Linked DNA regions of Homo sapiens. The protein of the gene in region 3 interacts with the protein of the main gene of each other region in a pairwise test. Each region holds a gene or a part of one and is shown on either strand. Other genes may lie near its edges.

Region 1 (8,032 bases), on a different chromosome or scaffold from region 3:
GGAGAATGGTTCAGACATTACACATTGGCATCCACATATGCCACACAGGCTTGAACTACAGCTAATTTGAGTCCTGGTAGAATGCTTGTGATCTCCCTGGAACATGAGAGAATGAGTGGCTCATGAGGTCTTCTTCCATCCACCTCCCTGTTTCCCTTATGAGACTATCATAAGGCAGTTTCTTATCACCTCCCAGGTTCTGATGCGGTATAAACTTTCTGCAGGCTCTATGTGCAGACTATAAAAACCACAGCCTAGAAATAGCTCCTTTGCAATAGAGTATCCCACAATTTGTACTGCAGCCATTGACCTCCCCTTTTTTTTTTAAGAGAAGGGGGTTTCACTTTGTTGCTCAGGCTGGTCTCAAAACTTTTGGCTTCAAACAATCCTCCTTTGAAGGAGAATCCCAAAGTGCTGGGATTACAGGCGTGAAACACTGCACCCAGCTGTATCATTATTTTTGGTGTGCAGGACAATGACCCTGAGAGCTACTAACTTTGGCTACTCTTCCTTTTACTATATAAGTAATAAATTGCATCTAAAAGTGGCTTGTTGTATCTTTAGTCAAATAAGAGACTTGAAACAGTACAGATTCTCTCTTCTACTGGCCTCAAAGAAGCACCATGACATCTATAGCTGCAGGAAATAAATTCTGATAACTTCCTGAGTTGGTCATACCTGGTGATACCCTGATTGCCATCTTGTTAAACCTGAGCAAAAGGCTCACCTAAGAAGTGCCTGAACTCCTGACCCAAGGAAACTGTGAGATGATAAATGTGTGTTGTTTTAAGCTGCTAAGTTTATGGTAATTTGTTACATGGCAATAGAAAACTAATACACCCAGTCTAGTACCTGTAATCATTTATTGGTTCTTTGGTTCCATATCTCAAAATCCATTAGTTAGAATTAGGCTAAGTATGGAAATATTTCTTCACACCAACAGCTACCTGAGTAAAGCCCAAGTATCTCACCAATAACTAGATACTTCATTATAGAACCCTTCCCACAATGTGCCATCTATACCCAGGCTTAGGGTAGTGACTATTATCCCTCCTTAGGTCTTGAACCTGGGCCATGCAGTTCACATTCCACAGTTAGTCTTTACAGCTTGGTCAGTTTCCAGAGCCTTCCCTCAAGTGACTCACTGCTCTGTCTATTCCTTCTCCCCTCCAGTCAGGACTCATATCTTTCCGATATCAGACACATTGATTACAGCATATTATACTCATCTATCACCAAATAATATATACCTCAAAGGTTTTAAACCACAAATTAGCCATAAAACTTAGTTCAATATATGGGTTATGATAAATAAGAGATATGAAAAAATTCTGGAAGTAGATAAAAACATGCAGTACATCAACAAATTAAAGCTATTATATTACCTTTGTTATCATTCTGAAAATAGGAATCAAGCTACAGATTTAAAACCAAAATAGACCTTCAGACTATGCTAAATAAATGGATTTGACATAAGGTAATCAAGTCATAAAAAAACCAACAATCCTGCATTTCCTTAGCTATAATTCTGAGAAAATAAAATGAATTAGGTTTTTATAACCCAGCAGTTATATTTAGTCTTCATCAGGGGTCAACAACTTTTTCTGTAAAGGACCAGACACTCAGCAGATATTTTAGATTTTGTGGGCCATAAAATGTGACACAGCTTTGTCACAACTACTCAACTTTGCCATTGTAGCTTGAAAGTACCTATCGATAATATGAAAACAAATGGGCATGGCTATGTTCCAATAAAACTTTATTTACAAAAACAGGCTGCAGCCAGATTTGGCTCACAGGCTGCAGTTTGCCAATCTCTAGTCTACACAGAAATATGATTATCATTTAAACAAATGAACAAAACTTACTGCTTAATTTTATCATTTCTAGGTCCAAATCTTGGTCCAGATGGTCCCCTTCTGAAAACAAGTACATACCAAGTACATATTAGTAGTGACAGGATTAAAACAAAACAAAAAAAAGATAGAAAGTATACACAAATACAAACAATCAAGCTGAACTCTAAACATGGATCAGTTATTTATCATAAGGGACCACATTTTACTGATACTGGTGAAACTGAATAATAGGTAATCATGTCTTTACTTCATTGGCACTTATTACTAGCCACAATTAAGCTAATTCTTCTGCATGTTAAAACTTTCAGAGAAATTAGGGTTTATATTATCTTATATAACAAACTTACACAGAATTTGTTCTGATCATTAAACTCTGAAATATCCTAACTACTTAACTGCTAGTGAATATTAATATCTTTATGGTCAACTGTAGAACTAAAAGCGCAATTCATCTTGAATTTAGACTATAATGAAATGAGGAAACTACAAAGTGAACTGCCGATTGACAAAGATGGATATAGAGAAAAATTCATTGAAGACACTAACAATTTTAAGTATGTTTTTGATTATTCATCTTAAACTTATCAACATAGCAAAAGGGAAATGCAAGATATTAAGAAAATTTTAACATTACTCAGATTATTATCTCCTTATTGTAGTTGAGTGTATATCACACCTTAACCAATCCATTTTAATATTCTTGAAATGAAAACATTTGGTTATTTAAAGTAATCATGATTCTTCCGGAGATACAGAATAAATAAGACATAAACTACAAAACTCAAAAGAAACCAGGTTCTTAGATTTCTAGACATGGCAATTTCTAAAGGAGGTGAAAAAATACAGCAATTGATAAAAAAATTTTGGAAAAAAAAACTGTTTACTGAAACTTATTTAACATAATGTATAAGTGTGAATATATCATCTTGCCTTAGTTCCTCTAAGCTTTTTCCTTAAAGTCTTTTAAGCTCCAACTAAGCCTCAGAATACTGGAACAGTATTCCATTCCAAAGTGATGTTAAACATTGAATTTCATAGAGAAAACTAATATTCTGAACCAGAGGCCATTCCTAAAAACTAGGCAAGAACTTACAAGAGCTGGTCAACCGAAAAACAAAGAAAAGCAGTCATTAAATGAGGAAACTATAAAGTGAAATAGAATCTGAAAAGTACTGAATTAAAATGATCCCCACTACAGGTTAAAAAAAAAGCAGGAGCTATGTCTGTTTCATCTATCAAGTAACATGAGACTTCAAAATACTTATAGAAAAACACAAAATGAAAAGCTGGTTCTTTGAAAATTAAAACTTGATAAACTTCTAGCCAGACTGATTAGGAAAAAAAGAAAGAAGGCATAAATTAGTAACAGGAATGGAAGAGTGAACATCACTACAGACAAATGTACCATGGTTATATAAGATTTATTAACAGAAGCTAAGTGAAGCGTAGATAGGAACTCTCTATACTATCTATGCAACCCTTCTGTGGGTCTAAAATTATTTTTAAAAAATCCCCCAAAGAAAATTCCAGGACTAGATTTGTTCAGTTGTCAATTCTACCAAACATTTAATGAAGAAAAAATAAGAATTCTATGCAAACTATTCTGGAAAACTAAAAAAGACAGAACTTTCCCAACTCATTATCCAGGGCCAGTATGAACCTACCACGAAAACCAGATAAAGACACAACAAGAAAAAGACATAACTATCAACCAACCAATACCTCTAATGAACATAGATGCAAAAATTCTTAACAAACTCTTAACAAATTGATTCTAACAATGTTTTAAAAGAATAATACATGATGACCAAGTAGGGTTCATATCACAAATGCAACGACGGTTTAAAATTTCAAAATCAACATAATTCAACACATTCACAGACCAAAAAAAATGATCATCTCAATAGATACAAAATAAATGCTTGACAAAATCCAACGTCAGCTAATGATAAAAACTCTTCACAAACTAGGAATAGGAGGAAACTTCTTCAACCTGATAAATCTACACACAACAACAGTAACAACATGCAATGAAAATGAAACATAATATGAAAGATGAATGCTTCCCCTAAAGGAGATCAGGAACAAAGCAAGGATATTCCCTCTCACCACCTCTACTCAATATTGTGCTGGATGTTCTAATCAGAGCAATAAGCTAATAAAAAATAAAAGGCAAACATAGACGAGGAGGAAATAAAACTGTCTTTATTTGCAGAAAGCATAATTGTTCTATGTTGAAAATCCAGTAGGATATATAAAAACACTACTAAAACTAAGTGGGTTTGGCAAGATTGTAGAATACAAGGTTAATTTACAAAATGATATTTATACTAGCAATAAGTATGACATTTTAAAATTTTGAAACACCATCTGAAATGTCATTTTTAGTAGCATCAGAAATTATGAAAATCAATGTGCAAAAATCACAAGCATTCCTATACACCAATAACAGACAAACAGAAAGCCAAATCATGAGTGAACTCCCATTCACAATTGCTTCAAAGAGAATAAAATACCTAGGCATCCAACTTACAATGGATGTGAAGGACCTCTTCAAGGAGAACTACAAACCACTGCTCAACGAAATAAAAGAGGACACAAACAAATGGAAGAACATTCCATGCTCATGGATAGGAAGAATCAATATTGTGAAAATGGCCATACTGCCCAAGGTAATTTATAGATTCAGTGCCATCCCCATCAAGCTACCAATGACTTTCTTCACAGAATTGGAAAAAACTACTTTAAAGTTCATATGGAACCAAAAAAGAGCCCACATTGCCAAGACAATCCTAAGCCAAAAGAACAAAGTTGGAGGCGTCACGCTACCTGACTTCAAACTATACTACAAGGCTACAGTAACCAAAACAGCATGGTACTGGTACCAAAACAGAGATATAGACCAATGGAACAGAATAGTGCCCTCAGAAATAATACCAGACATCTACAACCATCTGATCTTTGACAAACCTGACAAAAACAAGAAATAGGGAAAGGAATCCCTATTTAATAAATGGTGCTGGGAAAACTGGCTAGCCATATGTAGAAAGCTGAAACTGGATCCCTTCCTTACACCTTATACAAAAATTAATTCAAGATGGATTAAAGACTTAAATGTTAAACCTAAAACCATAAAAACCCTAGAAGAAAACCTAGGCAATATCATTCAGGACATAGGCATGGGCAAGGATTTCATGAATAAAACACCAAAAGCAATGTCAACAAAAGCCAAAATTGACAAATGGGATCTCATTAAACTAAAGAGCTTCTGCACAGCAAAAGAAACTACCATCAGAGTGAACAGGCAACCTACAGAATGGGAGAAAATTTTTACAATCTACCCATCTGACAAAGGGCTAGTATCCAGAATCTACAAAGAACGTAAAGAAATTTACAAGAAAAAATCAAACAACCCCATCAAAAAGTGGGCGAAGGATATGAACAGACACTTCTCAAAAGAAGACATTTATGCAGCCAACAGACACATGAAAAAATGCTCATCATCACTGACCATCAGAGAAATGCAAATCAAAACCACAATAAGATACCATCTCACACCAGTTAGAATGGCGATCATTAAAAAGTCAGGAAACAACAGGTGCTGGAGAGGATGTGGAGAAACAGGAACGCTTTTACACTGTTGATGGGAGTGTAAACTAGTTCAACCATTGTGGAAGTCAGTGTGCGATTCCTCAGGGATCTAGAACTAGAAATACCATTTGACCCAGCCATCCCATTACTGGGCATATACCCAAAGGATTATATCAAGGGAACCACCCCCGATAATTCAACATAGGACCTTTTCTATTTTCCCTAAGTGTCGGCTGGTCTGAGTAATAAAGGGAAAGACTACAAAAGAGAGAAATTTTAAAACTGTGTGTCTGGGGGAGACATCACGTGTCGGCAGGTTCTGTGATGCCCCCCTACGCCGCAAAACCAGCAAGATTTTGTTGTGATTTTCAAAGGGGAGGGAGTGTACTAATAGGGTGTGGATTATAGAGATCACATGCTTCACAAGGCAATAAAATATCACAAGGCAAATGGGGGCAGAGCAAGATCACACGACTGGGGCAAAATTAAAATTGCTAATGAAGTTTCGGGCACGCACTGTCATTGATAACATCTTATCAGGAGACAGGGTTTGAGAGCAGACAACTGGTCTGACTAAAATTTACTGGGCAGGAATTTCCTCGTTCTAATAGGCCTGGGAGACCAGGGCTTATTTCATCCCTTATCTGCAACATATAAGACACACATTCCCAGAGCAGCCATTTTAGAAACCTCCCCTAGGAATGCATTCTCTTTCTCAGGACTGTTCCTTGCTGAGAAAAAGAATTCAGTGATATTTCTCCTATTTGCTTTTGTAAGAAGAGAAATATGGCTCTGTTCTGCCCAGCTTTCAGGCAGTCAGACCTAATGGTTATCTCCCTTGTTCCCTGAACATCGCTGTTATCCTGTTCTTTTTTCAAGGTGACCAGATTTCATATTGTTTAAACACACATGCTTTACAAACAATTTGTGCAGTTAATGCAATCATCACAGGGTCCTGAGGCGACATACATCCTCAGCTTACGAAGATGACGGGATTAAGAGATTAAAGTAAAGACAGGCACAGGAAATCACAAGAGTATTGACTGGGGAAGTGATAAATGTCCATGAAATCTTCACAATTTATGTTCAGAGATTGCAATAAAGACAGGTGTAAGAAATTATAAAAGTATTAAATTGGGGAACCAATAAATGTCCATGAAATCTTCACAATTTATGCTCTTCTGCCATGGCTTCAGCCAGTCCCTCCATTCGGGGTCGCTGACTTCCCACAACGGATTATAAATCATGCTGCTATAAAGACACATGCACACATATGTTTATTGTGGCACTATTCACAATAGCAAAGACTTGGAACCAACCCAAATGTCCATCAGTGACAGACTGGATTAAGAAAATGTGGCACATATACACCATGGAATACTACGCAGCCATAAAAAAGGATGAGTTCATGTCCTTTGTAGGGACATGGATGAAGCTGGAAACCATCATTCTGAGCAAACTATCGCAAAGACAGACAACCAAACACCGCATGTTCTCACTCATAGGTGGGAACTGAACAATGAGAACACTTGGACACAGGGTGGGGAACATCACACACCGGGTCCTGTCATGGGGTGGGGGGAGGGAGGAGGGATAGCATTAGGAGATATATCTAATGTAAATGATGAGTTAACTGGTGCAGCACACCAACATGGCACATGCATACATATGTAACAAACCTGCACACTGTGCACATGTACCCTAGAACTTAAAGTATAATAATAAAAAATAAAAGAAAATACTTAAGGATCAATTTGACAAAGAAAAAAATACAACATCTGGACACTGAAAACTACAAAACACTGCTGAGAGAAATTAAGTACCCAAATAAATAAAAAGATATACTATGCTCATGGGTCAGAAAACCAAATATTGTTAAGATGTTAATTATCCCCAAATTCATCTATAGGTTCAATATAATCTCAACCAAAATTCTAGCAGGCTTGCTGGAAACTGACAAGATGATTCTAAAATTTATATGAAAATGCTTAGAGCCTCCAATAGCCAAAAGAACTTTCAAAAGGCAGTGCAAAGTTGAAGGATATACACTACACTACCTCACAACTTACTATAAAGTCGTAGTACTCAGGATAGTGATTACTATGGTATTGATGTAAGAAAGACACATAGAGTCCAGAAATAGAGCCACACATATATAGTCAATAAATTTTTATTGTGGTAAATATATATAACATATATTTACTATTTTAACCGTTTTTAAGCATACAGTTCTGTGGCATTAAGTAATTCACTTAATGAACTGTCATCACCATTCATCTCTAGAACTTTTTCATCTTTCAAAACTGAAACTCTGTCCCCTAACTTGTCATTCCCTTTTCCTCAAAAGCCCTGGCAAACACCATTCTATTTTGTGTTTCTATGAAATTGACTACTCTAGGTACCTCATATAAGTGGAATCATGCAATATTTTTCCTTTTATGACTGGCTTCTTTTACTTATCATAAAGTCTTCAAGGTTCATCCATGTTTTAGCATATGTCAGAATTTCCTTCCAAACTTTTTAAGGCTGAATAAATTCCATTTATGTATTCAATAGTGAGTTCCTGGGTGTAGAGGCTTGTG
Region 2 (8,032 bases), on a different chromosome or scaffold from region 3:
GACTGCTGGGATGGAGGGCTGAATTCCTCACAGGCACTGTGTGGAGCGCTTCCCACACCTCTCCACCTCCCTGTACCACTGGATCCACACAACAACACTGAATCAGGCAGTATTGCCCTTCTTTGCAGAAGAGCCAACAGCTGTTCTGAGAGGTCAGGTGACTTGCCTAAGGTCACTAGGTTCTAAAGTCATGGAGCCAGGATCAGATCCACCTGTTTGCCTCCAGTACCCACGAAGTTAACCGCTGCACAACTCTGCCTCCCATCCTTGGCAGCCCTGACTGGTGTCCCTGGGCCCCGGCCACCCTGGGGGATCTCACTAGCACGTGTAACAGGCCACCAAGTGTTTGCACAGGACTGGTAGGAGTTTATTCCATTTCTGGGAAGTCCTACCCCGCCATGGGTCCTCTAGTGGCAAACAAAGGGTTTAAGTCTTGGTCTGCATGCCCTGCTGGTTTCTCTTCAGCCTTTCCTTCTCCAGGTTAGACTTCCTCATTTCCATCTGCCCTCTACGGCTCTTCGAGATCCTGACGGTGTAGCACAGTGGACAGAGCACAGGCTTTGGGGGCAGGCAGGTCTGCATTCAAGGTCTTGAGTAGGTTTCTGTGTGACCTTGAGTAGGTTTCTGAACTCTCTCAGTATCTATTTCTTCATTGTAAAAAGAAGTTAAATACAGTCCCTACCTCCTAGGATGATGGATCCATGGTCCAGGACGTAGTCTAGAATTAGGGTTACAAATTCAGGCTGGGCCAGGCGTGGTGGCTCACACCTGTAATCCTAGCACTTTGGGAGACCCAGGCAGGTGGATCATTTGAGGTCAGGAGTTCGAGACCAGCCTGGCCAACATGATGTAACCCCACCTCTACTAAAAATACAAAAATTAGCTGGGTGTGGTGGTGCTCGCCTGTAGTCCCAGCTATTCAGGAGGTTGAGGCACCGAGGATCACTTGAACACGGGAGGCAGAGGTTGCAGTGAGCCGAGATCGCACCACTGCACTCCAGCCTGGGCGACAGAGCAAGACTCTGTCTCAAAAAAACAAACAAAAACTCTGGCTGGATAGATTGATTCTGACATTTGTGTCTGGGCTCTGTTGTTTGTAAGCTTTATGAATTGGGCCAATTTACTTAATCTCTCAGAGCCTCAGTTCTACCCCATACAGTTACACGGATGACATGAGTTAGGGGCAGTGCAGTGTAGATGCATGGCAGGCTGGTGCTTGTCAGTAGCAGGAGTTGCTGCTGTCGTTGATGATGCAGGATCCCTGCCCCACATAGGTATTTAACAGTTAGTAAACGGATACTTACAGTGACCGTCCAGATAGATGCTTGTCTCTGGCAGTTGAGGCACCCCCGTGGGACAAATGGGTACTGCCTCCGTTTCGCAGAAAGGAGCCTGAGGCCTTGGCGCCTGGACCAGCACCCAGGTTTCCTGTTCCAGCATAGCATCCTGGGACCCTCTGCTGCCTTGGTCCATTGACCCCTGTCTGGGAAAGAGCTGGGCGGCCTCCCCTGGGCTGAGCACTGTAGTGAGAGTCCAGGGGCTCAGGTCCGTCCTTCCTGCCCAGCTGGGAAAGGTCCTGGCCCTGCCACCCGTTTAGCTCAGGTTCCTTCCCTGCTTCCAGCTCCTCTTTCAGGCCATACCTGAGAATCCTGTGTCTCTTTGGCTACCAGGAAGCTCCCCCAGGGCCAAAAGACAGTGGTTTTGTCCTGACAGTTACTGGCCCCTCTTTCCCTGGGCTGCCAGGAAGTGCAGGGCCCGTTTGGCTCAGTTTCTCCCTGGAGTCTTCCTGCACATTAAGGCCTCTCTGGGTGTCCTCCTGTTACACAGATGAAGAAACTGAGGCAGGGGAGGCTTAGGCTTCTGGACGTTTCTTTTCCCAGGGGCTTAAGAGGAGCAACTGGTGCTAACTTTGTTCATATTTATCAAACCAAAGTGACGTCACGCAGAGGAGACTGTGTGTGTGCTAAGGATCTGCAGTATTTCCAGGTTACGTTGTTTTCTTCCCTAACAGAGATGGCAGAGGTGTGGGCCCAGCTGGGTGCTCACTCTGTATTACAGGCCCTTCCAGCGCTAGGAAAAGCCTTTACCTCATAGGTTGTAAGCATGACCCTTAGGGTATCCTGCGGATCAGAGGCCCCCCTGGGACTCAGCCTTTCATGCTAACTGCCATTCTTTCCGGAATAATCCAGGGCTCTGCAGGGCCCATTTATTAAAGACCTACTCTGTGTACAGTCTAGGCATAGGAGCGAGAGCATTGAAAATGAAGATCATTTCCAAAACAAGCCCAGAGTGGGAAGAGTTAGGTGTCGATTTTGGGGAGGAAAGGGGTGATGGGAGCTACCTTCCCTCTGTCTCTTTCCTCGGTGTCTTCTTTAAAAGCTGGATGTTGGGACCACTGTGGCTGACTCTGCGGTGTGGCCCTGAGCAAGTTCCTTCCTGTCTGTGGTCCAGGGTTTACTATCAGATGGAGGGGACAGTGGTTAGCTCTGAAGATAAAGATCAGAATCGTCCTCATGCCCAGCCCTGCCTGCCCCCAACTTCCTGTCCCTCCCTCCTCCACTCCCCTCACCTTCCACTCCAGCCACACTGGCTTCTGTTCAGTTTCCAGAAAGTTCCACGCCCCCCTTCTGCCACAGAGCCTTTGTGAGTGCCGCCCCTCCTGCTCAAAATGCTCTTCTTCCCCCTCAGCCTCCCCCATCCCTTCCTCAGAGAAGCCCCTGACCACCCCAACCCTCCCAGCCTCCCTGCTGTTCAATCAGGTGCCCTTTCCCTTGCTTTCCTTCAGGATGCTTTCCTTCAATCAGGTGCTTTCCTTCGGGATGAGGGTTCACTGCACCTCCATTCCTAGGGCAGAGTACCTGGTTAGCGAGGTCAGTACTGAGAGCGCAGCTCCGAATCTGCTCTGCACACCTCTGACTCCCCAGGGTGAATGAAAAGCAGGTGCCAGTGATGCTGGGTGACACTAAATGTTTAAGAAACTTAACACCGTTTATCACTTCAAGCCCCTGGGGATTGAAATCCATGGAAGACTACACCTCTCTTGCCTCAGTTTCCCCATCTTTGTAATGGGGAGAGGCCTAATGGCTGGACAGCACAGCCTGGGTTTGAGTCCTGGCTCTGCCACTGGCCTGCTCTGTGACCTTGGGCAAGTTACTTCCTTCTGAGCCTCAGTTTTCTCAGCTGTAAAATGGGGATAATAAGACCTCAGAGGATTGTAAGGATTTAGTGCATTTATATACAGAAAGCACTTAGAATGGCACCTAGCACATAGGAAGCGCTCAATAGTAGACGAAGGTAGGTGAGGTGATGGCGAAGATTCCTTCTAGAGCTAGACTTCTGTAACACACTACTCAGCCTGGTCAGAGTCTCGAGATCTTAAAGTTGGGTGCATCGGTCCTTACAGAATTATTTTCCTAGTCTCTTGGAGCTGAGAAAGGAATTTCTTTTGGGCCACAGAGCCAGGCCCCTTGTGGTTCACTCTGGCCCTGGGCCCTGGAGGTAAAGGTGAAGTATCTCAGCCACCAGCTCTGGATTCCATCTGCCCCCATGTGTGGACCTTTCTCACAAGCCCAAACAGTTCCCAGCTGAAGGCCTGCGCCCCCAGCGGGGAGGTTGGGTGCACTGGTTTTGGAGGCGAGTTTGAAATTTAATTCCAGTTTTGCCACTTGCTACCTGTGGAGTCTTGATCAACATAATTTATCTCTGAGTCTGGTTTTCTCATCTGTGAAATGGGAATAATAGTACCAGAGGCTGCTGTGAGGTCCAGATAAGGTCATGTGAGACGGTTGGCATAGGGCCTGGCACATAGTTGGTGTGTGGTCAAGAGTAACTCTTCTAGAAATGCTTTTTCCTCTGCTGCCAGAGTGAGTTTGTCTGTCTTTCTTTTCTGTCCTTTCTTTCCCTTCTTTCCCTTCCTTCGTTCCTTCCTTCCTTCCTTCCTTCTTTCCTTCCTTTTCTTTCTTTTTCTTTCTTTCTTCCTTCTCTTTCTCTCTTTCTTTCTTTTCTTTCTTTCCTTACTTTCTCTTTCTGGCAGGATCTTGCTCTGTCCCCCAGGCTGTAGTGCAGTGGCATGATCTTGGCTCACTGTACACTTGACCTCACTGGCTCAAGTGATTCTCCCACCTCAGCCTCCCAGGTAGCTGGGGCTATAGATGTACTCCACCATACCTGGCTAATTTTTTGATTTTTTGTAGAGATAGGATCTTACTTTGTTAGCCAGGTTGTTCTCGAACTCCTGGGCTCAAGCAGTCTTCTCCCTCCACCTCCTAAAGTGTTGGGATTACAGGCGTGAGCCACCAGACCTGGCCCACAGTTCTTTTTTGCAGGTGGTGAGGGCTCCTTCTGCCCTTCCACCCAGGCCAGAAACCCCGGCCTTCTTCGCAAACCTTGCCCATGTCTGCGCCAGGACACTGCCTCTGCCCCAGGCATGTGGCATCTCTCCCTTCCAGCCTGACCCCTCAATCCCTTGAGTAAACTTCTAGGGCCCTCATTGACCACCAGGCCCGTTGAAGCTCCCAATTTGGGGCTCCTGGCCTCCCAAAGTCTCTGTGCCACCCCACCCCGACCTCAGTTATCTCCATGCCCACCGCCACCCATGCAGGGCCTGGGGCTTGGCCCCACTTTGCCTGGCCGAGCCCCGCTCATACATTGTGCTCAGCCTGGGTCCCTTCCCTTTGGAAGCTCTTTCTGCAGCTGCCTGCCCTCCCAAGGCATCTGTCTTTTCTTTTCTTTTTTTTTTTTTGAGATGGAGTCTCACTCTGTCACCCAAGCTGGAGTGCTGTGGCCCATTTTGGGCTCACTGCAACCTCTGCCTCCCAGGTTCAAGTAATTTTCGTGCCTCAACTTCCGGAGTAGCTGGGATTACAGGTGCCCACCACCATGCCCAGCTAATTTTTGTCTTTTTAGTAGAGACAGGGTTTCGCCATGTTAGCCAGGCTGGTCTCGAACTCCTGACCTCAAGTGATCCACCTGCCTTGGCCTCCCACAGTGCTGGGATTACAGGGGTGAGCCACCGCGCCCAGCCCATCTGCCCTTTTTCTTTCTTTCCTTTTTTTTTTTTTTGAGGCGGAGGTTTGTTCTTGTTGTCCAGGCTGGAGTACAATGGCGCGATCTCGGCCCACTGCAACCTCTGCCTCCTGGGTTCAAGCGATTCTCCTGCCTCAGCCTTCTGAGTGGCTGGGATTACAGGCATGTGCCACCATGCCCGGCTAATTTTGTATTTTTAGTAGAAACGGGGTTTCTCCATGCTGGTCAGGCTGATCTCGAACTCCCGACCTCAGGTGATCTGCCCACCTCAGCCTCCCAAAGTTCTGGGATTACAGGCGTGAGCCACTGTGCCCAGCCTCCATCTGCCCTTTTTCTATGTGCTTTCCAGTCAGGGCCTTGTTGATGTCCCGGAGTAGAGACCAGTTCCAGGAGAGGAGGCTGTCATTTTAAGGACACAGAGGACATTAAAAAGGGTAAAATATTGTAGCTGGGTGCAGTGGCTCCTGCCTGTAATCCCAGCACTTTGGGAGACCAAGGTGGGTAGATTGCTTGAGCCCAGGAATTTGAGACTAGCCTGGTTAACATAGGGAGACCTTGTCTCTACAAAAAAACAAAAATTAGCTGGGCGTGGTGGTACACACCTGTAGTCCCAGCTACTGGGGAGGCTGAAGCAGGAGGATCACTTAAGCCCAGGAGTTTGAGGCTGCAGTGAGCTGTGATGGCGCCACTGAACTCCAGCCTGACCCACAGAGCAAGACCCTGTCTCCAAATTTAAAAAGAAAAAAGTAGAATATTGCAGAAATCCAGAAAAATAGCCAGGGGGATTTTGTTGTTGTTTTTCCTTACCATAAGGCATACCAAGCTATCTCCCTGTAGAAAAGTCTCAGTGGTGTCCCTCGTTGCACTTGGCATGAAGCCCACGCTCCTTCCCGAGGCCCTCAGGCCCCCCTACCTGTCCCCAGCTACCCTCCCTTTGCCCGCTCTCTCCAGCCACAACAGCTGCTTTCCCCTCTGCCCCCCACAGTGCGCCAGCTCCAGTGTCCCAAGAAATCACCCTCACGTGAGTCCCCACCGCTCCGCTTCCCATCGAGGCCTCTTCTGATTTCAGAGCAGATTCCCTGCATTCCACAAAGGAGCCTCCCACCCTTGTGTTACAGGAAAGGGGTCCCAATCCAGACCCCAAGAGAGGGTTCTTGGATCTCGCACAAGGAAGAATTCAGGGCGAGTCCATAGAGTAAAGTGAAAGCAAGTTTATTAAGAAAGTAAAGGAATAAAAGAATGGCTACTCCATAGGCAGAGCATCCCTGAGGGCTGCTGGTTGCCCTTTTTAAAAAAATTAATTAATTAATTAATTTACTTATTTTTGAGATGGAGTTTCTCTCGTCGCCCAGGCTGGAGTGCAATGGCACAATCTCGGCTCCCTGCAACCTCCACCTCCCAGGTTCAAGCAATTCTCCTGTCTCAGCCTCCTGAGTAGCTGGGATTACAGGCACACACCACCATGCCCGGCTAATTTTTGTATTTTTAGTAGAGACAGGGTTTCACCATGTTGGCCAGGCTGGTCCTGAACTCCTGACCTCAGGTGATCCACCCACCTCGGCCTCCCAAAATGCTGGGATTACAGGTGTGATCCACCGCGCCCAGGCTGGTTGCCCATTTTTATAGTTATTTCTTGATAGTATGCTAACCAAGGGGTGGATTATTCATGCCTCCCCTTTTTAGACAATATAGGGTAACTTTCTGACGTTGCCATGGCATTTGTAAACTGTCATAGTGCTGGTGGGAGTGTAGCAGTGAGGACAACCAGAGGTTACTCTCGTGGCCATCTTGATTTGGGTGGGTTTTAGCCGGCTTCTTTACTGTAACCCGTTTTGTCAGCAAGGTCTTTATGACCTGTACCTTGTGCTGACCTCCTGTCTCATCCTGTGACTTAGAATGCCTTAACCATCTGGGAATGCAGCCCACTAGGTTTCAGCCTTATTTTACCCAGCTCCTATTCAAGATGGAATTGCTCTGGTTCATACGCCTCTGACGCTTGGAAGGGGTGTGGGTGTCAGCTGCCCCATGGGAGGGGTGAAGGCATGAAGCGGCCCCTCCCTGGCCTGGCCTGCTTTCTTCCTCCTCCTTCACTCCTGGGCCACCTGCAGTTGCTGGTGTGCCTTTTCAACAGACATTACTGAGGCCCTCAGAGGTGCCAGGCGCAGGGGCGTCCTGTGTTTTCTGCACCCGACGCTTTCCTGCCCCTGTGGTGGTCATGTTCACAGACCTCTTCTCTCCCCCTTGTTGTGCCACAGGTGATTCTCCTAGGTCACTGGCTGCTGACAACCTGGTAAGTGACTCTGTGGGTATCTTGTGTGTCTCCTGCGGTCTCAGGGTCTGTGTCAGCCGGGTCAGGTCCTGGTTCTGCCGTGTTTTAACCAGGTCACTTTGGGCCAGACAGCTCTGCCTCTCCGGGTCTTGATTTCCGTCTGTACAATAGGCATAAGGATTGCACACCCTGCAGGAGCTGGGAGGGAGACGTGGAAGTGCTCATCAGAGCTCCCCAGGGCCTGCCCCACAGTGAGGCCTCAGCACTGCAGCTTGATTTTCACCTTTACCATCTCTTTTAATCTGTTGAGCTTCTGGAGACATTTCTCTGCCAAACCAAGACTGGAAACCATTGAGCTCACCTGTGCACTTTGCAAACTTCGAAGTGCAGCGCACAGGGCAACAGCTGTGAGTAATGTGAACTGTAACCATCATGATTCACGACCTTGAGAAGCAGGGCCAAAATACAGATTTCTTAGTCACACTTCCCCAAGATTCTGAGTTGGTGATTCTGGGCTGGGACCCAGGCACCTGCTTTCTTAAAAGCAAAAGATAAGATGGTTTATTCAAAGACCTATTGAACCGAATGGCACTCCACACCTGCCTTGCACATGTCTTCTGCATGTTACACTTTAGTGAATGTCCTATAAATCTAGGAAGCGCCCGCTGCATGCAGGGGAAGGCAAGGCCCAGTGGGTTTGGTAATAAATGAGGTAGACTCAGTCCCTGTCCCCCTGAG
Region 3 (8,231 bases):
AAAAGTTGCACCTGGACTCAAAATCGAAGCTCCAGTATAACCAATTTTTAAGGAGGAAGAAAAGGGGTGAATTAGAGCAGAAATAGTGAAATTTGGAATGTTTTCTGAATTAGTGAGTAGCCCAAGAGAGCACTCAACTATGCTGAAAATATAAAAGGATCCAAGCAAGGCTGAGATAATGTTGTGGATGCTAAGTTTCTAATAGGTAACTGCCGGAGATGGGCATGCTAGGGGCTTTCTGAACAGGTGCTGTGATTACTGATGAATTTCAGCAATTAACACCTGTGTTTAAAGAGCTGGCACACATTTTCCCCTCTCAAAGCACTGGGCTGAGAGTCCAGCTCTGCCCCACTGGCAGGCAGGAAATGAAGGGTAGGGAAGGAAGGTAAACACTATGCAACCCTGTCCCTTGGAGAGAAGTCTCTGGCAAATTTGGCAAGCCGCTTCCAGGCACCAACACCAAGAGGGAAACTATCAGTTACAGGATTCATGGCTGGGAGCACAGGCTCTGGAGCCACCTCCCTAGGTGTGAATCTGACTCGCCACTTGGTAGCTATGTTACTTGAGCAAGTTATTTAACTTCTCTGTTCCTCAATTCCTCATTTATGAAATGAGGATGACAATAGTACCTCCTTCCTAAGGTTTTGTATGGATTGAATGACTTAATTCATTTAAAGCACTTAGCACAGTGCTTGACAGAAAGTCAGTGCTCAATAAAGGTTGTTTTTTGTTTTGTTTTGTTCTGGTTTTTTGAGATGGAGTCTCGCTCTGTCGCCAGGCTGGAGTGCAGTGGCGCGATCTCAGCTTACTGCAACCTCCGCCTCCCAGGTTCAAGCGATTCTCCTGCCTCAGCCTCCCGAGTAGCTGGGACTACAGGTGCGTGCCACCATGCCCGTGCCACCACGCCCAGCTAATTTTTGTATTTTTAGTAGAGACAGGGTTTCACTATGTTGGCCAGGCTGGTCTCGATCTCCTGACCTCCTGATCTGCCCGCCTCGGCCTCCCAAAGTGCTGGGATTACAGGCGTGAGCCACCGCACCTGGCCAAAGGTTACCTATTATTTTAAGAACATGAAAAAACATGCCCCAGCGCGGTGGCTCACGCCTGTAATCGCAGCACTTTGGGAGGCCGAGGTGGGCGTTTCACGAAATCAGGAGATTGAGACCAGCCTGGCCAACACAGTGAAACCCGGTCTCTACTAAAAATACAAAAAGTAGCTGGGCGTGGTGGCACGTGACTGTAATCCCAGCTACTCCGGAGGCTGAGACAGGAGAATCGCTTGAACCCAGGAGGCGGAGGTTGCAGTGAGTCGAGATCACGCCACTGCACTCCAGCCTGGTGACAGAGCGAGACTCCGTCTCAAAAAAAAAAAAAAAAAGAACAGGAAAAAACACTAAGGTCACCATTTCTAATACTAAAACACCCACAAAAGACCAAAGGCACAGGGTGTCTAATAGTCTGGCCTGATCCACACAGAGAGCTGGGACGATAAATAGATGCTTGCTCAGACCCAGCGTGGTGGCTGCCAGGGGTGTGGTTTTGAGCAGGATTCTGGGGGCGTATCCAGATCCAAGGAAGAAGAGCACAAGGCTGGAAGGTGTCAGCACACAGGCCATTCATTTGCCTACCCCGATGTGAGGGACAGACACACTGTACATCCTTCTGGAAGTCTTCCATATATACTACTCCTCAACTTGACCTTTTCTTATGAATTACGCAGCAGAAAGCTGGAGCACAACTCAACACAGGCAGAGATGCTACCTGAATATAGAGTCGGTGTCACACCAACTGAGGAACAGCACATTTTAAAATACCCAGGCTCAAGACTATCCTGCAGAACTTGGTTAAAACTGATGATCTGGGGTCTCTGAGACACTCTGAGGCATGTCAGTGCTGTAGTCACAAACCTCACTCAGTAAATTCCTCAGGGGGCTCACCAGGGCCCCTGTGCACGCACTTGGTGGATTGCAGAGATGAGACACACATAACACATCAGTGGCTCCCAAACCTACCATACAAGAGAATCACTGGGGAGCCTCTTCTCACACAGAGTCCCTGTCTCTTACTCCCCTCACTGCCCTGGGCCTTCTAAATCACAATCTCCAGAAAAGGAACTCAGGAATCTGCACTTAGACAAGCATCCTGGTGATTCTGATGTGTGGCCAGGTTTGGGTACTGAGGAAGCCAGTCAGCATTAACATGGTGTGATGGATGCTACCACAGAGGCCTTTCTGCTGCGGAGGGACCAGAGAACAGGGAGATATCATGGCAGGCTTCACAGAAGCCAGATCTCTAGATGCCATCCTTGCTGTCTCTCTTAACCCCTCCCCAAGGGCCAGTCGTCAACTCCTGCTGATCTACTCCCTGAATATATCACAAATTCATCTGGGTGCCCTCCCTCCGCTGTCTCCATTCTGGTCTAGGCCACCATCACCTCTCACTCAGACTGCAGCAAACTCTACCTAACCAGCCTTTTTGACTCTAGCTTACCCTAGAGTATCTAATCTATTCTCACACTTCAAGGAAAGTAATTTTTCCAAAACGTAACTCTCATCCTGTCACTCATTCTGCCTAGAACCTTCCATGACTCCCTAGCACCTTCCATGACTCCCTAGCACCCTAGGATAGCTAGCGTTTCTCAGCTCCCACACTCCCCCAACTCCCTGGCATCTGCCTTCTCTCCAGGGAGGACTAGTACATCATTCTACTCATACATTCTACGCATACCTCATTCTACCAGTCCTACCAGCTCGTGCACCCAAGCCTTTGCATGGGCCTCCCATCATGCCTTCCCACAGCCCACTTGTAATGTCCTGGCTAATTCTCAGGTATCCGCAGGTCTCCACGTGGATATAAACATCTTTTCTACCAGAAACCTTCCCCCACGTCTCCAAAATGGGTCACCTGCCCCACAGCTACTCAAACCTTTCCGGTCAAGCTCGTTCCTTTGCCTGGCCTGCCCACCAATGCCCTGGGTGGGGACTCTGCCTGGGTCTCGCAGCACCCTCAACGCCAAGCCAGGAAGGGAAGGCAGGTTCTGAGGAAACTCTTACTGCAATAAGAAATGAATTAAATCTCTAAGGTTCTAAGTCTCTACAATTCTATTCGCTGTCTCCAGATTCTATTCTGAAAGGCCAAAATTTCTAAGAATCTGATTTTATGTTAATTCAAAAGTGTTTCCACGTCTATGCTCAAAGTTTACAAAAGACTACTCAAAGTTTACCATTCCAACTCTAAGGAGTCCTTAACTCTTCACCTCCCGGGGCATCCGGCCGCCGGGGACCGCGTCTCGGGCCAGCGCCGGGCACCACTCTGGTCCCGGGCCCCCGGGCCCCGCCGCCTCACCTGGCCGCCTGCATGAGCGCGCTCCAGCCGTAGTGGTTGCGGCTGTTGACCGAGGCACCGCGGCGCAGCAGGAAGCGCACCAGCGGTTCGTGGCCCCCGGCCGCGGCGAACTGCAGTGCGGTGTTGCCCGCCTCGTCCGAGCAATCCACGGGCACCGGAGCCCCGACTGCCCCCGCCGCTGCGGCCCCGGGCCCGGCCACCTCGGCCCCCGCCGGCTCCGCGCCCGCCTCCGGCTCCGCGCCGCGCTCGGCTGGCTCCGCCGCCCCCGGCTCCAGCAGCCGCCGCGCCGTCTCCGTGTCGCCCTGGTCACACGCGCGCAGCAGCAGCTGGAAGGCCGGGGGCAGCCCGCCCTCGCCCATCGCCGCCGCCACGCGCGGCCCGCTCCCGTCCGCCCCGCCGGCCGCGTCGGCTCCGCCCCCGGATACCGCCCGCAGGCGCCCCCTTCCGGCCACCCGCCCGCGCCGCGCGCCTACTGTGTGCCGGGAGCGCGCCGGGGCTAGGGCCGCGCGCCTGCTGTGTGCCGGGAGCGCGCTAGGGCCGGGGCTGCGCACCTCCAGTGCCCGTATTCGGGAGTCCAGGGACGCTCAGAGGAGCGCCCGCCGCAGACCCGCGTGTTCCCTTTTGCCTCTTCGGCGCCCTCTCGCCGCCCTGTCCCGGGGCTCCAGAAACTTCCTGTCAGGGCAGAGGTGGGAGCGGCCACGCCATCCCCTCTTCACGCTGTGGTCAGGGCCCTGGGCCCGGGTCTGAGTCCGCAGCTGCGTGGGCCTTGACTTTACTAGCGGGCTCCGCTGACCCCACCGCAGCCCCTGGCACTGAACCTGCCCTTCTAGAATAAGGAAGCGGCTGAATTAAGGAACGAACGGATTGTTTCCTCACAGTGTCCTGCGGTGCCCTTAATGTCGCTCCTTCATCTGGGCCAGGCTGCTGGGGCTAAAAGCGCCTCCTGTTCTCTCTCTCTCCCCCACCTTTTATTTCAACTATTATTATAGATTAAAGGGTACAGGTTTGTTACATGGGTAAATTGTTACATGGGTAAATTGCGCGACGCTGAAGCTTGTGGTCCCAACGATCCCGTCACCCAGGCAGTAAGCATAATACCCACCAAGAGGTTCTTCAGCCCAGAGTCCCCTCCATCCCTCCCTGGCCTAGCGATCCCCAGCGTTTGTTGTTCCCATCTTTGTGTCCATGTGTACTCAATGTTTAGCTCCCACTTATAAGTGAGAACATGCAGTATTTGGTTTTCTGTTCTTTTTAGGTCGCTTAGGATAATGGCCTCCAGCTTTATCCATGTTGCTGCAAAGGGCATGATTTCGTTCATTCTTATGGCTGCATAGTATTCCGTAGTATTCCATCATATTCTATCGTGTATATGCACCACATTTCTTTCATTCCTTCCCTCTCTTCCCTCCCTCCCTCCCTATCCCCCTTCCTTCCTCCCTCCCTCCCTCCCTTTCTCCCTCTCTCTCTCTCTCTCTCTCTCTCTTTTGACAGGGTCTTGCTCTGTCATCCAGGCTGGAGTGCAATGGTGCAATCTCTACTCACCACAACCTCTGCCTCCCAGGCTCAAGCAATCCTCCCACCTCAGCCTACCGAGTAGCTAGGACTGCAGGCAAGTGCCACCACACCCGGCTAATTTTTTGTATTTTTGGTTGAGAAAGGGTTTTACCATGTTGTCCGGCTGGTCTCAAAGTCCTGAGCTCAAGTGATTCACCTGCTGTGGCCTCCCAAAGTGCCAGGATTACAGGTGTGAGCCATCACATCTGGCTCTGTACCACATGTTCTTTATCCAATCTACTGTTGATGGGCACTTAGGTTGATTCCATACCCTTGCTATTGTAAATGGCACTGCAATGAATATACAGGTGTCTTTTTGATAGAATGAATTATTTTCCTTTGGGTATATACCTGGTAGTAGGTTTGCTGGGTCAAATAGTTCTATTTTAAGTTCTTTGAGAAATCTCCAAACTGCTTTCCACGGTGGCTGAACTAGTTTGCATTCCCACCAACAGTGTATTTTCTCCACAGCCTTAGCAGCACCTATTGTTTTTTGACTTTTTAATAATTGACATTCTGACTGGTGTAGATGATATCTCATTGTGGTTTTGATTTGCATTTCTCTGATGATTAATGATGTTGCGCATTTGTTTCATATGTTTGTTGGCTGCCTGTATGTCTTCTTTTGAGAAGTGTCTGTTCATGCCCTTTGCAGAGACACAACGAAAAAAAGAAAACTTCAGGCCAATATTCCTGAAAAACATAGCTGCAAAAATCCTCAATGACATACTACAAACAGAATCCAGCAGCACATCAAAAAGTCAATTCACCATGATCAAGTAGGCTTTATTTCTGGAATGCAAGGTTGGCTCAACATGCGCAAATCAATACATGTGATTCACCATATAAACAGAATCAAAAACAAAAACCATATAATCATCTCAATAGATGCAGAAAAGGCCTTCAATAAAATCCAACATCCCTTTATAATAAAAATCTTCAAAACAGATTAGGCATTGAAGGAACATACCTCAAAATAATAACAGCCATCTATGACAAACCCATAGCCAACATCATATTAAACAGGCAAAAGCTGGAAGAAGACTCTCACCACTCCTATTCAACATAGTACTGGAAGTCCTAGCCAGACAACCAGGTAAGAGAAAGAAATAAAAGGCATTCAAATAGGAAAAGAAAAAGTCGAACACTCTGTCTTTGCGGAGAGTATGAATCTATACATAGAAAACCCTACAGAGTTTGCCAAAAGGCTCCTGGAAATGATAAACAAATTCAGTAAAGTTTCAGGACAGAAAATCAATGTATAAAAAGCAATAGCAGTTTGATATGCCAATAACATTCTAGCTGAGAACAAAATTAAGAACACAACCTCATTTACAATGGTCACAAAGAAAATGAAATACCTTCTCTCTCTTTATCAGCGGTCCTTGAAGTGTGTCCCACACAGCAGTAGCACCATCACCAGCTGCAACACTGTTACAAACGCAGATTTTTCTGGCCCTACCCAAGATCTACTGAATCAGAAATTCTGGGTGTGGGTTCAGCAACCTATATTTTAACAAGCCCTCTGGGTGATTCTGATGCATGCTAAAGTTGGAGACCCACGTTTGATCTTCATTGCACGCCTGCCATCCACCGGGGAGGGCCCAGATGATCATCCCTAGGTTGCAGAGGAGGCAACCGAGGCACAAAGAGGTTGTGTCTTGCCAAAGACTCCACAACTATTCTGCAGGAGAGCTGTGAGTAGGACTCAGGTCTTCTGACATCGAGTCCAACTCTCTTTCCATTTTCAACAAATATGTATTGAGTGCCTGCCATTTCCAGACACTGTTTTAGGTGCTGGAAAAGCTGCAGGATTTAGTACAAGGTTCTTCTGTAGCTCACAGATCCATGAGAGCCTGAGAACCAGTTCTGGAGGCCCCAAAGCCAGGAACAATGACCCAAATCTCATGCCGCAGCTGCACCCTGTAGGAAGATGGGGTTGGTTCAGGCCCTTTTTGGTGTTCCTGGCTTCAGATTCAGAGGCTGAGGTGACAGTGCCTGACTGGCCCAACTTGGGTCATGTGCTCATATAATAGCGGGAGGTAGTTTCTGCTTCAGAAGGTAGGGCACTCCCAAATGTAGGAAGGGGGTTCAGATGCTGGGCAGTCAAAAACGATAACAAGTGTTTGCTATGAAATATTCCCTCTGGACACCCTTTTTCTTTTGGGAAGCCTTTCTTCCCTACTCACAGTCTGTGTGCTTCAGTGGTTAGCACATATCCTGATTGGCTTCAGCCCAGGACTTTTTTTTTTTTGAGACGGAGTCCCACTCTCTCTCCCAGGCTGAGGTTCAGCGGCACAATTGCACCCCACAAACTGCAACCTCTGTCTCCTGGGTTCAAGTGATTCTCTGCGTTAGCCTCCCGAGTAGCTGGGATTACAGGCACCCACCACCATGCCCGGCTAATTTTTGTATTTTTAGTAGGTACGGGGTTTCACCACGTTGTCCAGGCTGGCCTCAAACTCCTGACCTCAAGTGATCTTCCTCCCTCAGCCTCCCAAAGTGCTGGGATTACAGGCATGAGCCACTGTGCCCAGCCCAGCCCAGGATTTTTGCTAAAGCAATTGAGAATGAGGCCCTCTCTGCTGAGGTTGCCAGCTATCAGGATGTCAGCCAAACTGGTGCTCACTTTGCCACCACTTGAAGACAGCCTGCCTAAGAGTGAAGTCACCACAAAAGAAAGCAAAACCAAGTGATAGAAAGAGACTAAGTTAGAAAATCCCTCCCCACATTCTTTTTGGTGAGGTTTATTTTGAGCAGCATTGTTGTCACTTGCATTCCAAGCCTTAACAAATGGATAATTTACTTTTTTTGTAAATGAATGGGTTCATACTACGCATGCTATTCTTGAATCTTGCTTTTTTTTTTCTTTTTCCATTAACAAATGTCTTGGGCACCTTTCCATGTAGGTAAATACAGACTGCTGCATTTTAAAAAAATGATTGCGGCCCGGCGATGTGGCTCATACCTGTAATCAATCCTAGCACTTTGGGAGGCTGAGGCAGTCGGATTGCCTGAGCTCAGGAGTTTGAAACCAGCCTGGGCAACACGGTGAAACCCTGTCTCTACTAAAAATACAAAAAAATTAGCCAGGCATGGTGGCATGTGCCTGTAGTCCCAGCTACTTGGGAGGCTGAGGCAGAAGAATTGCTTGAACCTGGGAGGTGGAGGTTGCAGTGAGCCGAGATCACACCACTGCACTCCAGCCTGAGCGACAGAGCGAGACTCCATCTCCAAAAAAATTTTAATAAATAAATAAATGATAGCATGAAACACCATTCAGCAGACGTACCATAATTTATTTAATCATTTAATTTTTATTTCTATTTTAT
Region 4 (8,032 bases), on a different chromosome or scaffold from region 3:
AGTTAATATGAAATAATAACTATACTGATACACATGTGCAATGGGCCCTACCAGAAATATGCCAAAATAACAAGTTTTATTTAAAGAATGAGGTCTTTGGGCAGAAAGAAATGAGGGGTCATTATCATCAAAAATTATTAGGAAGATTGTAGGTAAAAAGAAATCAGCCTACAATTTTAACTAAATAAAGGAGGAGAAGGGAGTATATCATTACAGTTGATGCAGTTAGGAAAATTCAATTACCATTTTACCACAAACTGGCTGACTACTTCAAGAGCTCAGAGTCAGGCTCTCCAGGCATTCTGTTACTCTCCCACTAAGTTTCCTTACATGGGACATAAACCTGCATTTATGATTACAACAAAATATTATAATGCTATTTAATCTGACAGTTGGCAAACAATAGAAAAACAAACTGGAAATTAGTGGAGCCACACCCTCTCACTACCCCTGAAAATAGGGGCTAAAATGAGTCATTAAGAAACAGTATTCAAAGACCACTGTATTAACTAATGTGATTTATAAAATAAGCAAAATTCAGCAATTTTCAATGGAAAATGCCACAGTATTTGAACACTAGGAATGTTTTGATGCTGATTTTTATCAAAGTGGTACTGCAAGCCATTAAGTTGGAACAAATTCCAAATTCACAATTACATGCATCACCTCAGTTTAATAATCCAATAAATGATAAAAAAGACAAATAAAGAAAACAGCATCATATAGCACAGCAGCTTTGTTTGGCTCCCTCTGGATAAAATCTTCAGTTTGCCCATAGTTTTACCTAGAAATCCAGTTGTGGAATCAAATTGTGAATCCTATCAGAGATAAAGGCAAATAAAATATCACAGTTAGATTCTAAGAGTCTACATATGCATATCCAAGTAATTGAATAACTGTTACCATAGTACATTTGTAATGACAGTTTTGTGTTTAATCAATTCAGGAGCCTGTTGATAACCTTGGATAATCAGCCTGATTTCTCCATGCAAAATACAGTAATACTCTCAGCGAATAAAAAGCTCTTTCATTGTCCAATAAACACTTCTTTCAGCTCCACAGAGTAATTCAACAACTCAAAACTATTTAGGTGTTATTCCAATTATGTGGATAAAAAAAATTAACAATAAATGTAAGTACTTTGTGCATTATCACACAGATTTTTTTCCCCACTTTTTGTTGTGCCATTGCTCTCCAAGGTCAAATGGTTGACTGCTACCCAAGTAGAGGATTTCATCCAAAATGTAATACGGTTAGCAGTTAAATGTACTTTTATTTACTTATTTATTTATTTAGAGACGGAGTCTCGCTCGTTGCCCAGGCTGGAGTGCAGTGGTGCAATCTCAGCTCACTGCAATCTCTGCCTCCCAGGTTCAAGTGATTCTCCTGCCTCAGCCTCCCAAGTAGCTGGGACTACAGGCGCACGCCACCACGCCCAGCTAATTTTTTTGTATTTTTAGTAGAGATGGGGTTTCACCATGTTGGCCAGGGTGGTCTTGAACTACTGACCTCAGGTAATCCGCCCACCTCATCCTCCCAAAATGTTGGGAGTATAGGCGTGAGCTACCATGCTAGGCCTTGGACCTTTACTTTTAATATCCTTTTGTTTAGACAGCTGACTTTGAAGTAGAGTCTATTAAGTTAAGAGAATATCATATAGAGGTAGTAAAATGTGATAAGGACTATAAATATGGATGGGGAAAAACTAACGTATTAAAACATAGCTGGAAAATCCTAAAGATGAGAGAGGCTTAGGTAGGGACTAGAAATATTACACATACTTTCATAGAAATTATAATATCCTGAGATGTAAAAGCCCTGGCATAATAATAAATATCCTTTGTATAGCTCAGTGTCTATGTGGCTCATATACTTTAGATCTATGGATCTTCACCATGGTTATGCATCAGAATCACCGGAGATGCTTTTTCATGGTTATGCATCAGAATCACCAGAGATGCTTTTTTCAAAATATTTACATCTAGATCCCTCCTCACGAAATTCTAAATCAGTATATTTAAAGACAGAATCAGGCATATACATTTTTAAAGAGGTCCCTAGCTTATTATAGCGCACAAGCTTAGCAAGAACATTGCTTTTGATGCCAAATTCATTTTTGAATAGCACAATTTTAAAAGCACATGGAACCAGAGAAGGTTCAGAGAAGCTTGACATTCAAGATAAACGTTAACAAATGGAAGGGGACTCTAACAAGAAAAGGTATATGTTGTTAGAGAGAAAAGGCTCTGGGCTGTTCAAATGTATGAGCACTTTTTTCATAAGTGATCCTTAGGAAATCAAGCAAAAGAGTAAGTATCCATTAAGTGAACGACATTTAGTTGGTTGGATATCAAGTGCCTTTTGATTGCTTGGTTAATAAATTACTAGTAGTCTCTACTATTGAGACTTCTAAGACTACTCAAAATAGTCATTTGTCTTGTTTTTAACAATCATTCTAAAAACAGGATTAAAGATATATTGGCTTCCACTTGTTCCTCCCACTTACATGCGTAAGACGAGATGAAAAATGCAAAAGCATGGCAAAATAAACCTTATAGTTATTCCAAACACATTAGATACAAATGGACGGGAATCAAGGACTTACGATCTCTGTATTTCAAAATGAATAAAAGTTGAAATTCTATTATTTGCGAATATTAGATCAAATTTCTTAAAGTTAAAATCATAACCACTTACCATTTCAGCTAATAATTTATTCTGGGTTTTAACTTCATGGCCTATTTCAATGGAAAGCTATAAAGAAGAAGGTATACACAGGATTACTCACATAAAAGTATTCAAGTGTTATAAAGTAAAAATAATGTCATTCTAAGCATACACATTTTCTGAAATGAAACGGTCTTCTAGACACATAAACTCTCTTTTTCTGATACTTTTTCTACCAAGATCAATAAAAAATAAATTTGGAATTTCTACTCCTCCCAATTATGGACATTTCTTCTTTCCTCTTTATTTTAATTTCATCTTAATATTCAATTCCATCTTTTAATTTGGTATGTACTACTTCTCTCTGATTCTCTTAACCTTGTATGCTTTTATATCTTTATTATATTCCTACAAAAGCTACAAATTCCTACAAATATCTGTATATTTCCTTCTTACATTTTATTTATTATATTTTATAAATTATATATATATATTTTAACTTATTTTAGGTTTGGGGGTACAGGTGAAGGTTTGTTATACAGTTAAACTCATGTCACATGGATTTGTTGTACGGATTATTTCGTCAACCAAGAATTAAGCCTAGTACCCAACCTTATTACATTTTGAAAGATCTAGAAGTACCCATACAACCAATTCAAATCTAGACAGAAGTATTTAATATTTTCCTAATGAAATGTTACATTACTTTAAATATGTCTAAACTGATTTTTCCTTAGTTTAAAGGTTTTTGCTTTAAAATATGATAATAAATTGAAAAAAATAAATATTAGTGTTACTTACTTCCTGAAGCTCTGAAGAAAAGAGCCATAGCTTACAAAATACAATACTATAGCTAATTATGACAACTATTCAAACCAAAATCTATCTAATACTTTATAGGACAGATTCATCAAAGGCTTCACTTCCAAGATATTTAAATAAATAGAATCATCTACTGAAAATCTTGGTAAATCACTGCAAATATTGTTCTTCATCTGTGTGAAAGCACATGGGATAATACTGATACAAAACCATACTAGAATTCTATAGATCAGAACATGAGCTTTCCTCCCAGATTTAACAACTCAGAGATAATAAAGTAACTATAAAGCTAGACTGCCCACATTACTCAACTTCTATCACTGTCATTCATGCCAAGGAAAAATATTTCCAGGACATCACAACTTTCTTCTAACAAGTAATCTAAATTATCTACATTGGGGGGGTTTTTAAAGGCATTTAATTCTTAAGTCCTTCCAAGTGTTGTATTTTTAAAATTAACATTATACAATATTACTTAGTTCATAAATCAACTTTAGTTTAATATGACTTTGAAAACAATCCTGTTTCAAAATCTAAAGGTCTCCAGACTGAATGTAATTCGATTTTCCAAAGACTATATTGAAATACCAATTAAGTTTTATCAACATGGGCTTCTACTGAATGCTTTATAAGTGAACGTCATGTTCATTATAATGCAGTATCAATCACATATATTATTAAAATCATCTTCGTGTAATTCTTTGGTTCAATACAAATTTACTCAACACCATTGATAAGGAATTATGCTAAGTGCTATATAGAATATAAAGTAAGTACAATAGAAAACCTGCATTCTGGTAAATTCCTTTTACATACAAATAATGCCAATGCAAATCACTATGAATAAGTGCTACAGAAATGGCACAAATGGTCTTATGTTCATAAGAAGAAAAGTTACTTTTGGATGTGGTAATCAGGTAAAAGTTTGGAGGGAGGGGGTGCAATGAAGTGGGGCGGATGTGGATAAGCAGCACTTCAGTTGATCTAAGAAGGAAGTGGAGGCTTAAGGCAAAGGGATAGTGTGATATGGGGGTGGGAAAGTGACAGCATACAGAGGACACAAAGTGTAATTTGTCTAGCAGGAAGCACATACAGATTCTGGAAGTGTGAGAGATAAGATCTCAAAAGCTAAGGCCAATTTTTGAAAGATCTATCTGATTTAATCAAGCTACGAAGCATGAACTTTATTAAATCATGGAAGGACGCTGAAGACTTCTGGGAGTGCAGGATGCAAGTTTTAAAATATTCTAAACGAGGACTGTGGCAATGATTATATAGCTCAGATCATAATGTGCAAAAAAACAGGAACAGATAGGTTAAGATGTTCTTCCAATAGTTCAACTAAGAAAACCAGGGGATAGGCCAGGTGCGGTGGCTCACACCTATAATCCCAGCACTTTGGGAGGCCAAGGCGGGCGGATCACCTGAGATAAAGAGTTCAAGACCAGCCTGGCCAACATGGTAAAACCCTGTCTCTGCTAAAAATACAAAAATTAGCCGGGTGTGGTGGCGGGCACCTGCAATCGCAGCTATTTGGGAGGCTGAGACAGGGGGATTGCTTTAACCTAGGAGGCAGAGGTTGCAGTGAGCCAAAACTGCACCATTGCACTCCAGCCTGGGCAACAAGAGCAAAACTCCATCTCAAAAAAAAAGAAAAGAAAAGAAAACCAGGGGATAGTATTAGAAATAGAAAGGCAAAGATAGAAACATCAGAAAGACAGTGTAAGACTCAGTGACTGAAATGAAGTACAAAGGTAGAAATAAGAAAGACCAAGATTTATAGCTTAGAAGGCTAGATTAAAAAAAGCAGAAGAGCTACTTGGGGGTGGAAGATGGACAGCTCTGTTTGAGACATTACAGCAGACAGCATACAGTATACAAAAAAGAGCTGGAGATTTTTCTTAAGTATTAAAAAAAATCTATCTTTTGATGTGCCACATTTTTTAACTTACTCAAAGCACAGTCTAAATTTTGAGTGTACTTTGACCTCACAAAACCACAGTATCTGAGTAAATGAATTCCTTAGGATGACGTCAATAAGAATATATAGTTTATAATTATATGTATAGAAATATATGAATTAAAACACATATAATATTTGTTATATACTTACAGATTTTATAGCAGTTACTTTGCTTCTCAGACTTTCAGTGAGCCTCTCATTTTCTTCTTCACAGGCACTATACCCACTATTAGCATAGCCATAGTTCCCATAGTTGCCAGGAGGTACTCCTTCACCTGCAAGGATCAGAGTCACAAAGGTGGTTCTAGAGAAGCCACTTTTGAAACACTGTTAGTTAGGAAAGAACTGAAAAAGACCCCTGGAGGGCCTTGCAAACCACATATGTCTCTAATATTCATACTCCAAATGAATTTAAAAAATAAATAACCAAACAGAGATCAGACCAATTCTTTCCATTACTCTCTGTTAACCAAAGAATATTCAGTTCAGTTCATTTTGATACACATTTCTGGATTGCTTATTGATTGTCCAGAAGATACAAAAATAGGTACTAATACACAAGAATATTCAGGATACATTCCCTGCTCAAGAGAAACATATATTTTAATGAAAGTTCTAAAAGCAGTAACATCATCTACCCATTGAAAAAGCGTGGCTGTGAAGAGGAAGGGAAAAGTGGTTAATACAGAAGGACGGGAGCTCATAGCGGCGAGGGTTCTTTACTGGCATCTCTTTCTCTTAAATAGACAGTTGGACAGGAAAGAGCCAAAGCAGGGAGGGGGCAAACTGAAGCTCTAGGAAAGAGACACAATAACTTATGCAGAATGCTAGCTGAGAGTCAAGAGGGAGATTCATTTATTCTTCAACATATATTTGAAGAATTACCATGTATCAGATCCACTGTTCTTTCTAGGTGCTACTTTTATGGAACTCTAAGGGATAAGAATGTACACCTCCCTGCCTAATATAGTACTTCATAGTCATCAGGCTATCAAACAACAGATGGAGTGGGCCTTAGTGAATACATATATAAATATGTTGGGCGATTAACAGGAAACGGCATAGTTCAGGGTGTTAGTTAACTATACTTTTTTTTTTTTTTTGAGGTGGAGTCTCGCTCTGTCGCCCAAGCTGGAGTGCAGTGGCGCGATCTCGGCTCACTGCAAGCTCCGCCTCCCAGGTTCAGGCCATTCTCCTGCCTCAGCCTCCCGAGCAGCTGGGACTACAGGTGCCCGCCATCACACCTGGCTAATTTTTTTTTTTTTTGTATTTTTTAGCAGAGACAGGGTTTCACCCTGTTAGCCAGGATGGTCTCGATCTCCTGACCTCATGATCCATCCGCCTCGGCCCCCCAAAGTGCTGGGATTACAGGCGTGAACTTTTTTTTAACATAATTGTTGCCATCAATTTTCTCAGTAAAGGGAGAAAACGGGCTATCTGCTGAAGAATGGGTGATCATTCAGAATATACAGTAAGGAGAATGATGGAGGAAAGGGACCGGGACTGCACAGGATTACTAAAGATAAAACAAACTTGTTTGAGGCAATATACTACGGTGGCTTCAATCGTCCCAGGTGTGTGGTTTTTTTCTGCAGAAGAGTTCATCGGCCTGAGTTAGTCCAGGAGAAGGTGGATGGTTGGACTAATCTATAGTTGGAAGCTTATAATATTGAGGTTGCAGAAAAACGGAGCCCCAAGAGGTTGAGACTGCTTGCCAAAAGAGCGGTTGAAGATCTGGATTATGGGGATTAGATTGGACAGATATTAAAGCAGATTCAACAGTGACTTGAGAATGTGGGGAAAGGAATGATATCAAAACTAGAAGTCTCAGAGCCTGCTGCACACAGTTGCTTGCACCTATAATCCCAGCTACTTGGGAAGCTGAGGGAGGCAGGATCACTTGAGGCCAGGAATTTGAGACCAGCCTGGGCAACACAGCAAGACCTCATCTATTAAAAACAAACAAAACTAGAAGTCTCCATATGCTCAATGAGCAGATGCAGCAGCAGTGACAGGAGGTAACAGCACTGATCACTGAAGGACAGTCAAGGTGTGAATAGGAACTTCTTTCAAGGCACAATAGAAATTTCATTTTCCCTATGAAGCAAAACTCTCACTGATTTCTTACAGCTCTGATTGTATGTAACACTAATATTGCACTCTGTACAGTACTATAAGGGAAGAGAATAAGTTTGTTTGACTCAACACTGTATGTCCCCCCATAAACCTACAAACACATACACACTGTAAGGCACACTCAATGAATACATGATGTGAACTAATTAATGAAAAGAATCTGAGTTCACTGTTATTGAACTTTGAATGTGCATACCTTTGTCCAGAATGGAATCATATGCTTCTCTGAAGGCAAAGACAGTATCTCATGCTTCCATATCCTCCCTGTACCTAATGAGTACTTTATATGCAGCAGATACCTATGCAATCTCCACCACCACAAAAACCACAACAAAATATTGAAGAAGTATTTTCCAAACAGAAGAGAGTTGTACTATCTGAATTTTGCTGCTGACACACTATCCATGACACACTATCCATGAAGCTCTCCACATGTTTTATTAT

Evidence for each region.
Region 1: the proteins of ANKS6 (region 3) and VAMP4 interact in binary tests that used the Homo sapiens proteins (3 or more experiments, as listed by UniProt).
Region 2: the proteins of ANKS6 (region 3) and AGTRAP interact in binary tests that used the Homo sapiens proteins (3 or more experiments, as listed by UniProt).
Region 4: the proteins of ANKS6 (region 3) and BET1 interact in binary tests that used the Homo sapiens proteins (3 or more experiments, as listed by UniProt).

Annotation. Positions count from the first base shown.
Region 1 is NC_000001.11:171,717,303-171,725,334, forward strand, and holds part of VAMP4 (vesicle-associated membrane protein 4), read right to left. Parts: intron 1,920-8,032; coding exon 1,869-1,919; intron 1-1,868. UniProt on the Homo sapiens protein: Involved in the pathway that functions to remove an inhibitor (probably synaptotagmin-4) of calcium-triggered exocytosis during the maturation of secretory granules.
Region 2 is NC_000001.11:11,738,523-11,746,554, forward strand, and holds part of AGTRAP (type-1 angiotensin II receptor-associated protein), read left to right. Parts: intron 1-6,010; coding exon of another isoform or gene 6,011-6,046; intron 6,047-7,280; coding exon 7,281-7,315; intron 7,316-7,604; coding exon of another isoform or gene 7,605-7,701; intron 7,702-8,032. UniProt on the Homo sapiens protein: Appears to be a negative regulator of type-1 angiotensin II receptor-mediated signaling by regulating receptor internalization as well as mechanism of receptor desensitization such as phosphorylation.
Region 3 is NC_000009.12:98,792,788-98,801,018, forward strand, and holds the start of ANKS6 (ankyrin repeat and SAM domain-containing protein 6), read right to left. Parts: upstream 3,769-8,231; 5' UTR 3,705-3,768; coding exon 3,346-3,704; intron 1-3,345.
Region 4 is NC_000007.14:93,993,568-94,001,599, forward strand, and holds part of BET1 (BET1 homolog), read right to left. Parts: intron 5,728-8,032; coding exon 5,603-5,727; intron 2,755-5,602; coding exon 2,698-2,754; intron 819-2,697; coding exon 663-818; 3' UTR 344-662; coding exon of another isoform or gene 327-343; 3' UTR 1-326. UniProt on the Homo sapiens protein: Required for vesicular transport from the ER to the Golgi complex. Functions as a SNARE involved in the docking process of ER-derived vesicles with the cis-Golgi membrane.